2 separate regions of the Homo sapiens genome follow, and region 2 is linked to region 1. The links come from fine-mapping of genetic effects on plasma protein levels. A gene starts in region 1. The other region holds a variant in brackets. All regions are shown on one strand. Distances are from middle to middle.

Region 1 (8,345 bases):
ACAGAAAAGGTACAATAAAAATACACTATTAAAATCTTGTGGGACCACCGTCATATATATTCATCATTATGTGATGCATTCCTGTATGAATATTTGATTCCTCTCTTCTTTATCCTCAAAGCAGAGCCTTTTAGAGCAGTACTGTATAAATGCAAACTAAATCTTTGTCTTTTCCATAAAAATCACAGAATCGTTTTGGAATCATACAATCCTTATGAAAGTGAAAAAGAGGAAAAATAGATAAACAACAAGATCTTGGGTTTTTTTTTCTTTGTGGTACCAGCTTGCTAGGATAGTAATTCTTGATTTTTAATGTTCTGCCTTTTAGAGTATCCAAACTCTCAGGATTCTCATAATTCTTATAATAATATTATGAGGTAGGTAAGAGTGGCTTCTTTTCCCCTTATACTAATTAGAAAACTGAGGCTCAGTATTAACATGACTGGTTCAAGGCCCACCCATACCTAGTTCAAATCTGGGTTGTTCCATGGTTGCCTTTCCATCACCAGCTTTCTTAGTTATGATCTGTATTCCCATGTGGTTGTGAACTAAGCTAGCTTATATAACAGCATTAATGGATAAAAATCCATAGCTTTTGTTTGTGGCTTCTTGAAGAAAAGTGGTTTTTAAGACCAAAAGAAGCAAGACCTAGCTCTAGGGTGAATGGCATGGGATTGTATTTTGGGCATGTTTCTGTTACCTCAAGTTTGGTACCATTAGAAGGGATGTAGCAGGGATACTTTGGATGCATAATTTTTTAGGATTAGTTGCAGATAATCTTTAAATAGGTAGATTTTTTTCTAAATCTTCCAGAATATACAGCAACTTACATCTGCTTTTCACATTGTATTTGATTTGTTGGATCATCTTTTGCATCAGGGTTTGGATCTGGATTCCAACAAGTTTGAGGGACAACACAACATTGACAGCGCTGGTTCCCCTGTTATAGTTTGACTGGATCATTGTATTCAACAGAGGTTTTAGGCGGATGTAGTTTTCTTCACTTACCTCTGTGGCAGAGAAGGAAGGAAATAAGAAACACATACTCAGAAAATAGTAAGACTTGCAGCAGGGGTTATATAAAAATATTTAGTAACAGATATGGCACAGACCTAGACCAATCCAGTGGCTGCAGACTGTGTTGGTGGAATAATACAAAGGTGGGTCTTGAACCCACCCCCATGCCAGACATTACTCCTTTAACAACCAACATGAAAATGTTTTAATATTTTAACAACTGGTGCAGACTTATCATTGTGTACTGGCAGACTCCTGCCTGGGAAATCTAGCATCATTCCCTAATTTTGTATATGAAGCTTAGATAGATTGTCCTTAAAGAAACTTCCATAATTGGAGGCTGAGCTGAAACTAGACTACATGTCTTCTGACTCTCAGTAAGCAGGACTTTCTACTTCCTGGATTCAGTTCTTTCCTTCTCCATCTTCTAAATCAACTGGGTTAATGTTGAGAAAATGCAGGTAATAATTCTGTGTTATACTGGTGATTGACCCCAAAACTTCATTGTCTGATTACCCAGCTGGCTGGGCATCGAGATCATTATTTAGCATTATGCAGCCTGTAAAAAACTCTCCAGTTTTAGCCTACAATATGCCCCAATTCCAGAGATGGAGGGAAGTCACATTATACTGTGGAAGTAGGAAAATCCATAGCTCCCAAGGAAATAGAGGAGAATAAAAAGATTTACTATTTATTTAAACACAGGACACTTTGTCAATGTATTTTTCCATAATCTTGAGGAGTAGCCCCAAATCCTACATATCTCCAGATTATCTAATGGATTAGTGGGAGAGTGAGAAGAACATGAGGTTTGGATTCAGATTTTGGCCACATTTTGTGCTCCTTAACTTATGACTGTGGATAATAACTTATGTAACTTGTTTTACTCTTAGTTTTCTCATTTAAAAATTGTGGCTGTTAACACTTACCTTACAGATATTGGACAAGAAACCACCGAATAAACTGTAAAATGCTGCACATACTATTATTTCCAGCTCAACTGGAGTTTTTATCACTATACTTGAGAATCAAGGAAATGTAATTTCTCTTGCCCAGTTTTCTTTACTTTAAAAGAATGAGTCAAGAAGATCTGAATAGAGTGATTGTAGAAAGGTCATGGTTTGTTGCAGACACAATGGAACAATTGTGAGTCAGTTCTCTGAGATTTTGTGGAACCATCCAGCTCAGCAGATTTTCTGGCCCTGAAACAGACTTTTTAGTTCCTGATCAACAACTCAAATCAGCTTCCTTGAGTCTCAAAGATAAATTTAATTATTATCATTATTATTTAAAATGAATTGAAAGCTAAAACCTACATAGCCATTCCCTATTCTTAGGATCCAACAGGGGAAATGTCAAGCCAAGAAGAAAAATCAGAGTCAGAAGAGTCTATGCTTTAGCCTGTATGTATACAAGCCTGTCTTCTGTGGTGTTCTCTTCTTACTGGTTAGAGAGCACAGATAGTACCACCTAGTAATCTTTGGACTGGTTTGAAGCTCAATTTCAGAGTAAAGTCTCACAAAAGAGAATTCATGCACTTGAGAACTGCACCAGACTTCATGAGATAATTTGCTTCAATAGTCTCCCCTCATTATCCTTTATTTATGAATGAAGCTAAAGAAATTCAGAAATGTTGGGTCATTCAATAACTAAGGGATCAAACTAAACCTGAATTTAGTTTTCCCTTCTCTTACTTTAAAGTTCTTTTACAGAACCACACAATCTCTGGGGTCAACACCCATGCAAGAGATGATGGAACTTTATCCCATGTGTCCTGGGAAAGAGTTGAAGGAAGGTGGACATGCAACTTGGAACATCTAAACTCACTCATGACAAGACAGCAGTCATCACTATTTGAAAGAGATTATTATTTTTTTCTATGTAGTTACAAGGGGTTAACCCAAAAATCATGCATTGAATTTCAGGGAAAAAAGATTGCATATCAAGACCAAAAGATAACTTTCCATGATCTAGAAAAGTTTCTGGGAGCATAAATTTTCTGTCATTGAAAAGTCACATGAATAGGGAGTTACTTGGTAGGGATGCTGTGCTAGAGAGGATCTGAGCATAGAAAGAGCAGTTAGGCAAGTGAATACACAATCTATAATTCCTCTTACAACAACATGCATTGTGAGACTTTCCTCACCATCTCCTGCCACCCTTTTCATCATTCATGGAGTCCAACCACATACGAAACTGGAATGGGATCTTTTCTCAGGTAACTCTACATAGAGTCTCTTGTCAACAGTTTTCAGTAGACTATCACTCTAGAGTAATTTTAGCTCAAAGTTTACTCACCACAAATCTCGCATAGTTGGCTTGGAATAAAAGAAAACAGTAAGAGCCCCACTAGGGGCAGCTGGTGTGACTGTCTCATCTCTCCAACAGTGTACCAGAATGTTGATGAATTGGCTGGCTATTTATTAAGTGATGGGCAGAAGGTAATGAGAGCTCCTCCTTCAGGTTGCCTCAGCCTCTTTTCACTCAAGCAAATATTGAGCAATGTCAGGAGGTGTGGTCAAGTGTATTTGTCCATGTGATGTAATAAATAAGGAAGAAGACTTGAAGGATGTGGTTAGGGAGAATAAGGCAATAACTTTCCTTTGTCTCCTGTCCTAAACCTTCGGGTTTCATATCTATTATTTGCCTTCCGTGCAGTGAAGATATATTAGGCAAATGACTGTTTCCTATAATCTTTCCTTTTTTTTCCGTTTCACTTTATGTTTTATGTTTCCTGATAAAGTAGATTTGATCATGCAAACACATACAACATATAAAAATGGAAGTAAAAGAAGACATCCAAATGGGAAGCAGGCATATGAAAAAGTGCTTGAAAAGGTGCTTAACATCATTGATCATCAGATAAATGGAAATCAAAGCTACAATGAGATATCCTCTCATCTCAGCTAAAAATGGCTTTATTCAAAACACAGGCAATAACAAATGCTGGCACGGATGTAGAGAAAAGGGAAGCCTTGTACACTGTTGGTGGGAATGTAAATTAGTACAATCACTATGGAGAACAGTTTGGAGCTTCCTCAAAAAACTAAACATAGAGCTACCATATGATCCAGCAATCCCACTGCTGGCTATATACCCAAAAGAAAGAAGACCAGTATATTGAAGAGATATCTGCACTCCCATGTTTGTTGCAGCACTGTTTACAATAACCAAGATTTGGAAGCAAGCTAAGTGTCTATCAACAGATAAATGAACACAGCAAATGTACATATACACAATGGAGTACTATTCAGCCATATAAAAGAATGAAATCCTGTCAGTTGTGACAAAATGGATGGAACTGGAGATAATTATGTTAAGTGAAATAAGCCAGGCACAGAAAGACATACATTGCATGTTCTCACTTATTTGTGGGATCTAAAAATCAAAACAATTGAATTCATAGAGATAGAGAATGAAAAGATGGTTACTGGGGGCTGGGAAGGCTAGTGGTGGGAAGGAGATGCGGAGGGTTAATGGGTACAAAATATTGGAAAGAATGAATAAGACCTACTATTGGTAGCATAACAGGGTGACTATAGTCAATAATAATTTAATTGTACATTTTAAATAACTAATAGTATAACTGGATTGTTTGTAACGTAAAGGATAAATGCTTGACAGGATGAATACCCCCTTCTCTATGATGTGATTATTACGCATTGCATGCCTGTATCAAAACATTTCATGAGCCCCATAAATATATACACCTACTATGTACCTACAAAAATTGAAATAAAAAAATTTAAAAACGGAAGTAAAAGTTGTAAGTCTGAAATTGAAGCAGGCAGTATTGGAGAACCCAGCACATGAGGGGATCTTTGGCATAGTGGTTTCCAAACTATGATTTTTCTCCTAAGATAGATTCCATGAGAGTTTCCTAACCAAGGAGGAAAACCAGAGAGCTATACATCAAATGTGAATTTCTGCCCTGCCAGGGCAGTTGCTACATGTGAGAAGTGTTGCCTATCACAGTTCTTCTGAGAACTATTAGAGAATACTGTCAGCCTAGCTAAGGATGTCATGACTTAATGAGCCACTATTTGCATTGTACCTCTGTGATGGTTAATTTTCTGTGTCAACTTGACTGGCACCTGAGTGCCCAGATTAAACACTATTTCTCGATGTATCTGTGAGGGTGTTTCCAGATAGGATTAGCATTTTAATTGGTGGACTCTGGAAAGTAGAATGCCGTCTCCAATGTAGGTGTGCATCAATCAATCTATTGAGACCCTGAATAGAATAAAATGGTGAAGGAAGGGGGAATTCACCCTTTTTTTGCTTCCTGCCAGCCTGTTTGAGCTAGGACATCTTATCTTCTCCAGCCCTCAAACTGAGATTTACACCATCGGCTCCCCTGGTTCTTGGGCTTTCAGTTTGGCCTGAATCACTCCACTGACTTTTACTGCATGCAGACAGTAGACTGTGGGACTTCTTAGCCTCCATAAGGGCATGAATCAACTCCTTGGAATAAATCTCTTTCTCTCTCTCACATATTTATATAAAACTTATGTGGAAACCACCATTCTACTCTCTGTTTCCATGTATTTGATAATTTTTAGAATCTACATATAAATGAGATCATAGTATTTGTCTGTGACTTATTTCATTTAGCATGATATTCTTCAGGTTCATCCATGCTGTCTCAAAGGGCACTATTTCCTTCTTTTTTATGGCTGAATACTATTCTATTATATAAATATAAATATATATATACACACACACACATATATGTGTGTGTGTATATAAATCACAATTTTTATCCCTTCATCCATCAACAGATATGTAGGTTGTTTCTATGTCTTTGATATTGTGAATAATGCTGCAATGAACATGGGAGTACATATTTTATATAATATATATTTTTGTTTGTTTGTTTGTTTGTTTGTTTGTTTTTGAGACAGAGTTTCTCTCTTGTCGCCCAAGCTGGAGTGCAATGGTGCAATCTCAGCTCACTGGAAACTCCACCTCCCGGGTCCAAGTGATTTTCCTGCCTCAGCCTCCAGAGTAGCTGGGATTACAGGTATCTGCCACCACACCGGCTAACTTTTCTATTTTTTTTTAGTAGAGACAGGGTTTCAACATGTTGATCAGGCTGGTCTTAAACTCCTGACCTCAGGTGATCCACCCACCTCAGCCTCCCAAAGTGCTGCGATTACAGGCGTGAGCCACCGTGCCCATTCGGGAGTACATATATTTCTTTGAAACACTGCTTTTGCTTCCTTTGGATATGTACCCAGAATTAAGATTGTTGGATCATATTGCAGTTCCATTTATAATTTTTTGAAGAACCACCACACTGTCTTCCATAATGGTTGTGCAAATTTACATTCTGCAAACACAAAGGATTCTCTTTTCTCTACATCCTCATCCATACTTTGTTATCTTTTGTCTTTTTGATAATAGTCACCCTAACAGGTATAAGGTGATGTGATTATTCTGATTTGAATTTCTCTGATGATTAGTGATATTGTGCATGTTTTCTCATGCCTGTTTGCCATTTTTATGTCTTCTTTGGAAAATGTTGAGGTCCTTAGCCCATTTTAAAATCAGGTTATTTGTTTTGTTTTTGTTTTCATTTTGCTATTGAATTGCATGGTTCTTACATATTTTGGATATTAATCTATTTTCAGATATAGGTTCGCAAATATTTTCTCAAATATTCCACAGCAACTTGGATGGAGCTGGAGGCAATTATTCTAAGCAACACAGGAGTAGAAAACCAAAAAAAATATTTTCTCACTTATTATTAACATTATTTCATTCCTTTTAATGGCTCAGTAGTAGAATTCTTCTATACCCAATTTGTTGAGAGTTTTTTTTTATCATGAAAGGATGCTAAATTTTTTTGATTGATTTTTTTTTTTTTGCTTTTTTTTTAATGTGCTGTTGAATTTGGTTTGCTAGTATTTTGTTGAGGATTTTTGCATCTATGTTTATTATGGGTATTGGCCTGTGATTTTTTTTTTTTTTTTGGTAGTGTCCTTATCTGGCTTTGGTATTAGGGTAATACTCATCTTGTAAAATGAGTTTGGAAATATTCTTTCTACAATATTTTGGGACAGTTTGTGAGGAATTGCCATTAATTCTTCTTTAGGTATTTGGTTGAATTCACCAGTGAAACATCTGGTCCTAGGCTTTTCTTTGTAGGGAGGTTTTTGATTGCTGATTCAGTCCCCTTATTTATATTTTTGGTCTGTTCAGATTTTCTATGTCTTCATGATTCATTGTTGGCACATTGTGTGTTTCTAGGAATTTATGCATTTCTTCTAGGTTATCCCATTTGCTGGCATATAATTGTTCATAGTAGTCTCTTATGATTCTTTGTATTTCTGTGATAGCAGTTGTAATGTCTTCACTTCTTTCATTTATAATTTTACTTATTTGAGTTTTCTCTCTTTTTTCTTGGTTAGTCTAGCTAAAGGTTTGTCGATTTTTTTTTATCTTTTCCGAAAACCAACTTTTAGTTTTGTTGATCTTTTCCATTGTTTTTCTATTCTCTATTTTATTTGTTTCTGCTTTGATCTTTGTTGTTTCCTTCTTTCTGATAACTTTGGGTTTAGATTATTCTTTTTCTAGTTCCTTAATGTTTAAACTTAGTTTGTTCATTTGAAATCTTTATTTTTCCTTAATCTAGACATTTATAACTATGAATTTTCCTCTCAGTACTGCTTTTGCTGTATCCTATATGTTTTCAGATATTGAGTTTACCTTTTCATTTGTCTCAAGATACTTTTTACTTCCTCATTAATTTCCTCTTTGGCTCCTTGATTGTTCAGGAGTGAATTATCTAATTTCCATGTATTTGTAAATGTTCCAATTTTTCTCACATTATTGATTTCCAGTTTCATACCATTGGGGTCAGAAAAGATACTTGATATAATTTCAATATTCTTAAATTTGTTAACACTTATTTTGTGACTTAATGTGATCTATCCTGGAGAATGTTTTATATGTGCTTGAGAAGAATGTGTACTCCCCTGCTGTTGGATGGAATGTTCTGTATATGTCTGTTAGGTCCATTTGGTCTAAGTATTGTTCAAATATGGTAGTTCCTTATTGATTTTCTGTCTGGATTATCTATCCATTGTTGAGTGTGGGGTATTAAAGTCACCTCTGTTACTGTTTTGCTGTTTATTTTTCACATTAGTTCTGTTAATATTTGCTTTAAGCACCCAATGTTGGGTACATAAATATTTATAATTTTTATATCTTTTTGATGAATTGGCTCCTTTATCATTATATAATGATTTTCTTTGTCTCTTGTAACAATTTATTTGTCTCTTGTAACCTCGGCCTCCCAAAGTGTAGGGATTACAAGCATGAGG
Region 2 (8,345 bases), 14 kb before region 1:
CATTCCCTGGCCAGTGAATACGACCCAATTGCTTTTGTCCAATTGCATGTTCCTTCTTTGTGACCCATACAAAGTAGGGAAAGAACTTGGTTTACTGCTGCCACCTCTAGAAGGAACACAGCTCCTTCGACACCTTGATTTTAGCCCAGTGAGACTCTGACTTCCAGAACTGTGAGATGATAAATTTGTCTTAAATAACAAAATTAGTGGTAATCTGTTACAGCAACAATAAGAATCTAATACAGGATTATGAGTACAGTATGGTGCTGACTTTGCATTCCAGAGCCTGCTCCTGATCGTCCTGAGATGATCCACACACCCTTGGCCTGCCAGCTCTTTAACCACTCACTTCCTTGTATTATAAATTACCATTTACAACCAGGGCTGCTGCAAGATTGATCGTGACACAATTGTTGCAGTTAGTAAATAATTCCCAGAACAGGAACCACACAGGCCATACATTTCTTAACAGGGATATTTTGACAGTCCTTGGTTAACTATTGACTGGGATGATGTGTTCATTTATTTCCTTGTTTCTCCTGTGCCTAATATTTTGGTATCAAAGCACCTAGACTCTCTCTGGACATAAGTGAGGTTTATTTGTGGTGATTATTCTTTGCTGTGGCAGCAAAAGGAAGTTTCTCTCTTCAGACTCAGTTCAGGTTCTGTAATAGTCTCAAGCTGTAGGAGCTTCTTGTAAGGCAAGTGTGGCCAATTAGGTTTCTTATTTTTATTTTTATTTTTATGTTTTTCTGAGATGGAGTCTGGCTGTGTTGCCCAGGCTGGGGTACAATGGTGTGATCTCAGCTCACTGCAACCTCTGCCTCCCGGGTTCAAGTGATTCTCCTGCCTCAGCCTCCTGAGTAGCTGGGATTACAATTGCCTGCCAATATGCCCAGCTAATTTTTGTATTTTTAGTAGAGGTGGGGTTTCGCCATGTTGGCCAGGCTGGTCTCAAACTCTTAACCTCAGTTATCTGCCTGCCTTGGCCTCCCAAAGTACTGGGATTACAGGCATGAGCCACCACGCCTGTCCTCAGAACTAGGTTTCAAGGGCCGATGTTAGTGGAACCCTAAGGGAGTGTTATTTCATGTCTACTTCTGAGATTAAAGGCATTTATATCAGACAGCAATGTTACTTACTACATTATACTTTTTTTTTTTTTGAGACAGAGTCTAGCTCTGTTTCCCAGGCTGGAGTGCAGTGGCGCATTCTCGGCTCACTGCAGCCTCCGCCTCCCAGATTCAAGCGATTCTCCTGCCTTAGCCTCCCGAGTAGTTGGCACTACAGGCGCATGCCACCACACCTTGCTAATTTTTGCATTTTTAGTAGAGACGGGGTTTCACCATGTTGGCCAGGATAGTCTCGATCTCCTGACCTAGTGATCCACCTGCCTCAGCCTCCCAATGTGCTGGGATTACAGGCGTGAGCCACTGCGTCCGGCCTACATTATACTTTAAGACCTCTGGCTGGGAGAAACTAGGCTCTGTCTGTTAGAAATAAATGCTAGTAGTGCTAATTGCTAGTATGCAATTCTGACATTTTGCATATTTCTCACCTTAAACCAGTATCCTTCAATTTCACATAGCTTGTATAGGCTACAAACAGATCTGACGATTAACAGCACCAGGGATCCTGGAAGGGTAACATGGCTCCCAGCTTCTCTAATTTAGCTTTATTATTATTATTATTATTATTGTTATTATATTTTTAATTTTTGTGGGTACACAGTAGGTGTATATATTTTCTAACTTAGCTTTAAAGATGAGACACAGACCCAAGGGATAGAATCCATTTCTGTCCACTCATGAGGGTCATGTGTTACATCCAGTTAATGAAGACCAGGGCAGAGTTGAACCTGAGCATCGAGTATCAATAGCAGAAAGCAGTATGTTGGAAGAGGGTTCAATCTCTGACTGTGAAGCAGTGTCACTGGTGAAGGAGAGGAAGCTAGGATGATTGTGAAGAAAACACAGGAGAAATGAGGAAGACATTGTTAAAATAATTCACCTGGCTGGGCGTGGTGGCTCACGCCTGTAATCCCAGTGCTTTAGGAGGCCAAGGTGGGTGGATCACCTGAGGTTAAGAGTTCGAGACCAGCCTGGCCAACATGGAGAAACCCCACCTCTACTAAAAATACAAAATTAGCTGGGCATGGTGGTGCATGCCTGTAATCCCAGCTACTCAGGAGGCCAAGGCAGGAGAATCACTTGAACCCAGGAGGCGGAGGTTGCGATGAGCCGAGATCACACCATTGCACTCCAGCCTGGGCAACAAGAGCGAAACTCTGTCTAAAAAAAATAATAAAATAAATAATAATTCAACTAATTCTACCTGAAGGCATTTTTCTTTTAAAAATTACTTTATTTTAAACTTTAAGTTCAGGTATACATGTGCAGGTTTGTTGTGTAGGTAAACCCATGACATGGGGGTTTGTTTTACAGATTATTTCATCACCCAGGCATTAAGCCTAGTATCCATTCGTTATTTTTCCTGATCTTCGCCCTCCTCGCCACCCTCCACCCTCTCATAGGCCCCAGTGTGTGTTGTTCCCCTCTATGTGTCCATGTGTTCTCATCATTTAGTTCCCACTTATAAGTGAGAATATGCAGTTTCCTGTGTTAGTTTGCTAAGGATAATGGCCTCTGGCTCCATCCATGTTCCTGCAAAGGATATGATCTCATTTTTTATGGCTGCATAGTATTCCATAGTGTATATGTACTGTGTTTTCTTTAAAAGTCTATCATTGATGGACATTTAGGTTGATTCCATATTTTTGCTATTGTGAATAGTGCTGCAATACACATACACGCGGTTTATATTAGATTTAGATGTAGAATGATTTATAGTCCTTTGGGTATATACCCAGTAATGAGATTGCTGGGTTGAATGGTAGTTCTGTTTTTAGCTCTTTGAGCAATCTCCACACTGCTTTCCCCAGTGGTTGAACTAATTTACACTCCTACCAACAGTGTATGTGTTTCTTTTTCTCCATAACCTCACTAGCATCTGTTATTTTCTGACTTTTTAATAGTAGCCATTGTGACTGGTGTGGCATGGTGTCTCATTGTGGTTTTTATTTGCAGGAAATTACTTTAAATGGGTTACTTTACACTTTACATAAAGTACCTTTTGTCCTTTGGTATCTTAAGTGTCCTTCTAGTTTCTGACTGTACTGCATGTAGCCCAGGTACTCAGTATAAGTACAAGCTCATGCTGCCTTGATGTGATTCAACTTTTTTCCTTTAAGACGTGACTTCTTAGCATGACAAAAATTGATTAGAAAAATAAAAAAGGAAAAAAGTGAATTCTGTGGAAATGAACATGATAAGTGACTTTTTTGCATATGTATTTTGATGACATGAATATTGGGGTGATTTTATGGGGAAATAAAGGGAAAATAAATGTAAGAGAAGAATAAGTGGGACCCAAGGGAGACATCTGGAGGCAGGGGATGAGATTGTTTCTCAAACTACGGGCAGACCTTTTATGTATATGCCTCACGTTTCCCCCTTTCTTCTGAGCAACATGTTTTTTTTACCCACTACCTGTATGAAATCAGTGTGACCAATGGGCTCCTCTCTTGCATCTGGGCCTCAGAGAGCTCAGTCTTTCACAGACTTTCTGCTTGATCTCATTGGTTGTTGCTGCAACATTAGACCTAGAACCTTATCCCCATTTTACCCAGTTGCCCAATGCCACTGAGATAGTTAGTAGGAGAACCTTGAGTAGAACCCCGCTTATTAGACATGTGGTCTCATTTCTTTTCACTTCAGTTTTTCCTTAGGTGGACTTTCCTCTAATACATTTTAAAATCCTTTCAGAATGAACTAATTAGAACATGCTCTTTTTGTATAGTTGTTAATCTTTCAACAACTTTTATTGAACATGTAGAGAGAGAAGGGGAGGTT[A/G]TTAACTCTCCTGCTCGTACTGGGATAAATGAAGAAGAAGGCATAAGGACAATAAACATGGAACTCCACTGCAAATGGATTTTATGCAGCTGAGGAAAGTTTGGGCTTATTAGTATTTGCTCCAGCGAACCTCCAAGTTTTCTCCATTGCGGACAACGTAACTACCAGCTCCTGAAAAGGAAGAAGAAAGAGAACTGGGTCAAATGATTTGGCCACTAAATCACCAAATAATGGATGTCATCTCTACTAACCCCTTGGCCCAATCCCCACAGAGGCTCACACCCCTCTCCATTTGGGCATTTTTAGCATGGGTCTTTTTGGCATGTCTCTCCCTTACCTTGGCTCAGTGGTTCGCCTCCACTCAGAAGTTCCCAGTAGGTTCTGTCATTATTGTTGGCACATAGGCCCTGAATACAGGTGATATAGGGCCCCCATGAGCGCTCCTCCATTGTGAAACTGTGGGTGACAGCAAGTAGGTTACTGGAACTTAGAATTGTCAAAGGAAACCAACAATAGGCATTTCTCAAACTTTAATGTACCTGAGAATCACTTGATGACATTATAAAAATGCAGATTTCCTGGCCCTATCCATAGATATTTTTATTTTTAGATATGAGCTGGGGATCAGGAATCTGCATGCTTTATAAACACTCCAGCTGATTCTAATGCAGGCACTCCACACTCCATGCTAAATTAGAGAAATGATGCTCATGGTTTCTGCTCTCCCCACCTGCCATGGTAGATAGGTTTCAGATAACAGCTTCAACCTTCCACCCCAAGATAGTAACTGCTAAAGATACTGATTCAGTAGAAGAACATATGATCCTCATGTGCTAGAGACACCATAAGTTACTGAGTTTTCCCTTAGAAAAGAGGAACAGGAAAGGATAATTTGATATTTCATATTGTGTTTATTAAAAAGTGACAGGTCAGTATCTGTTTTATATTCCGTAGTCATTTTTCTACCTCCCTTAAAGCCCTTGAGGGTAGCCTTTATAATGTATATTATATTATTATTCTGATTTTCTTTATAGCATCCTACACTGTGTTGTTAGATATGATAAATAACTGTCAACTAGAGTTAAGGAGCCAAATAAGTCATACTTTTCAGAGGCAAAGCCATTATTTTAATTTTAATACTTGACCTCCTTGACCAGTTACTTTAGTTTGGGGATCTATGAGTTTTCTGAAAGCGAGGGCAGGGAGAAGCTTCAGGGTATCTGTGAAACCCTCAGTTGAAATGCTAAATTTGGCAGTGGCTCATGCCTGTAATCCCAGCACTTTGGGAGGCTGAGGTGGGCAGATCTCTTGAGCCCAGGAATTCAAGACCAGCCTGTGCAACATAGTAAGATGCTGTCTGTAAAATAAATAAATAAACAAATGCCAATTTTTGTGTGTATGTTCATTTTTTTCCTGGATGAACATTCATTACATTCACTTGATTTTCAAAGGGGTCCGTGATTCAAAAAGAGTTAAGAACCACTGTTCTAGATCTCAAATGTTTGACTTTAGAAGTTACATTTATTGCAAGAATTTTACTGAAATAAGAGAGAGCCCTGAGATTCATTAATTTATTTAGCGAACATTAATTTACTACCTATTATGTGCAAGAAGATGAAATACCTCACCTCCTATTTTAAACTCCTGCTGTGAGATGTAGATGGACAGCAAAGCTACTGACCCAGAAGCATTTTAAATATACTTTGTATTTAGGTGCAAATGCATTCTTACTGCATCTTTAGAAATGACAGCAAACATCTTAACCTTAGGTTAGGTACAGACCTACCCAAATATAGTATCATTCATTTTCTGGGCTTTCTCCATCACACTGAGGAAGACAGAACCATTTAGCACAGTGACATTGGTGAAATATGTTTCATTGATTCTCACAGAGTAATTGACGGAGATATATGATTGTGAGTCAGGAGGTGTCACAGTTATAGGCTCATCAGCGGAGATGTTGAAGTTACCTGGCAGAGACAGAAAAGCCCAGAGCAATATTCAGAAAAATAAAAATGATATTAGAGTTTGCAGACCTACTCAACCCCTATCCAAGGACTCCTTGCCTTTATGCAGACACGGATTTACTATAAGGAGCAATTATCATCACTCAAGGGGCAAATTTCTCATATAACTAAAGCAGAAACTAAGACCCAAACTCACCAGCTTGTGAATGTTGGCACTTGGCTCAACTCCCAGCTGTTTAAGCAATTCAGTTGCTCTAACTTCTGTTTCTCACAGAGGATCCTGATTTTTTTTTTCTTTTTTTGCCTTGGTACAGCATACAATAATGCTTGTCTTTTCTCCTTTTTATTGCTTAACGTTTATTGAAAACATATGAATTGCCAGGCACTATACTAATCATTTTACATGGATTGTCTCATTCAATCTTTACAAAAACCTATGTTAGGTACTGTCCTTGTTCCCAACTTTTACATTAGAAAACTGAAGCTTAGAGGTTAAACATTTTGTCCAAGTTTCCTAAACCTGTGAGTGGCTGAACCAGGAATGGACAGAGATATAAGACAATGTCTCCTTTCCTTCTACCTGGTTGCAAGGTCATTTTTTGAATAAGTAATGCATGCTACAATTTTTGAATACTGGCATATCACTTCCACACAGATGTCTCATTTCCCTAAGGGATCACTCACTGTGCAAAGTCAGAGTCACGGTACCAATACTCCATACTTTATTTAGGATGAGAATGATGCTCAGATCCTTCTATATCCAACAGTCAGAAAATACACCTTTGGAGATAGACATTATTTAATCAGGTCTGCCTTGTTAATGTTTGAACTAAGAGGGACATCTAGCACTCAGTTAAGAACAAATCCTCAGGTGACTGTAAACCCTGGTAACATGAGGAAAACTGAATTCTCTCTGGCAACTGTTATGTTTTGGAGGTTTATCTGGTCACTTTTGGTTTCAAAGGACACCTGAATCTCACATGCTTTGGGTGCTATGGTGAAAAGCGAAACAGTGTGCTCTCTTTAATGCTTATACCTGAAGCAGAGACGCAAGAAGAGTCTTTGTTAATATCCAAGAAGGTCTTTCCCATCAGGGCAGGTAAGACCTGGGCTGCAGCGTTTGGATTGCTGAATGCTCCTTGAGAAATTTCCGTGAGCACTGTATTCAGAGTTTGTTGGCAATTCCAGTCATTTTCATTATAATAGTCTGATGATACAAAGAGGGCCTAATGAGGCAGGGTGGGGTGGGGGGGTGATGAGAGATAAAGAGAGACAGAGAGAGAATATGAGACACTTCAAATAAGGGGGAAGCCTTATCTATAACTATATATGTAACTAATTCAGTATTAATTGAACATTGACTACCTAGGAAGCACCTCAGATAACTCAGTTATCTTTCTTGTTATCCAGAAGCTTATAAACTAGTTTGGGCAGGGAGGTTGGAACTGCTTAATAACACAAGCTATAATAGTTCCAATGAAGGCAGACTTTGCCACATTCATTTCTGTATCCCAGTGCTGGGAAATACCTGTCATATAGGAGACACTCAATAAATATTAACAAACTACTGTAAAAGGAGTTGCCAGAGGAATGCCCTAAGGGATGCATCTAGTGGGATGCCTCTTTCAAAAGAGGAGAGGAGCTCACAAACATTTAATGAAGCTAAAAAAAAAAAAGCTTCCTGGAGAAGGTGGTATTTGAGTTAGGCCTTGGAGAGTAGGATAGAGCACTCAAGAGGAACAACATGAACAAAGGTGTTAGGTAGGAATGGCCAGGACATGACCTGGCAATGATGACAGTATCTGCATTTTAGCAAAGTTCCTCAGGGGATTCCTCCTGGTTTAGGAGAACTGATGTATGGGGAACATTGGAGGCAACTGTGGAAAAACAGGCTGGAGAAGGAAGTTGGGCTAGACTAGTAGATGCTTGAATTTTATGATGAGATGTCTGACCTCATTTGATTGACAACGATGAGGAGGTGTCTGACATTATTTGATTGACAATGGGGAGTCTAATTGTTCATTAAACAGAAACTCTCCTGGCAGCAGAATGTAAGCTTGATTGAAGGGGCAGAATTGTGAGGTAGTAAAAGTTAGGAGGGCATTGGGGTAAGCAAGACAGGAACTAAGGTGGGTCGGACTTGAACATGCTGCTCTGTAGTTTCCCAGGGATGGACAGTTCCTGTTTTCATCTTTTCTTGGAGGTTCTTAAGCTAACCAAGTTGTCCACAAGCATTTGTGGGATATTAAGAAAAAAGAAAAACTGGTCATAGTACATTTCCTCTTAAGACACGTCAATAAATGTTATTCACATACATAACAATAAATTAAATGTTATTAATATTTAAAAATACCCAACAATGTGTTGTAGGCAATTAGCTCTTGATCCTACTGTGAATTTGTATCACCTGTAGGGCTTTTAAACCAGAGCAAGGCCCAGGCTCCACCTCTAAATTTCTGTACTACCT

Alleles and levels. Positions count from the first base shown, and alleles are read on the strand shown. Strength reflects both the effect of a copy and how common the allele is.
As copies of A replace G in region 2, the plasma level of the protein whose gene starts at base 3,411 in region 1 goes up (moderate association).

What was found. PIP is the posterior inclusion probability: the model's chance that the variant is causal. The UK Biobank Pharma Proteomics Project read protein levels with antibody pairs (Olink). The fine-mapping took linkage between variants from a reference panel, not from the people measured, so its PIPs are less certain.
Region 2: its variant is fine-mapped to the plasma level of the TCN1 protein (UK Biobank, PIP above 0.99).

The regions. Positions count from the first base shown.
Region 1 is chr11:59,863,077-59,871,421 of GRCh38, forward strand. TCN1 (transcobalamin 1) reads right to left here and starts at 3,411. Exons shown (of 9, transcript NM_001062.4): 1 at 3,316-3,411; 2 at 831-1,010. The coding sequence starts at 3,394.
Region 2 is chr11:59,848,955-59,857,299 of GRCh38, forward strand. TCN1 (transcobalamin 1) reads right to left here. Exons shown (of 9, transcript NM_001062.4): 6 at 6,915-7,104; 7 at 5,698-5,881; 8 at 4,249-4,367; 9 at 3,854-4,082. The coding sequence ends at 4,021. Among named protein-coding and RNA genes, the nearest start is that of CBLIF, 7.6 kb to the left of the region's middle. The variant A/G (reference allele first, on the strand shown) is at 3,912.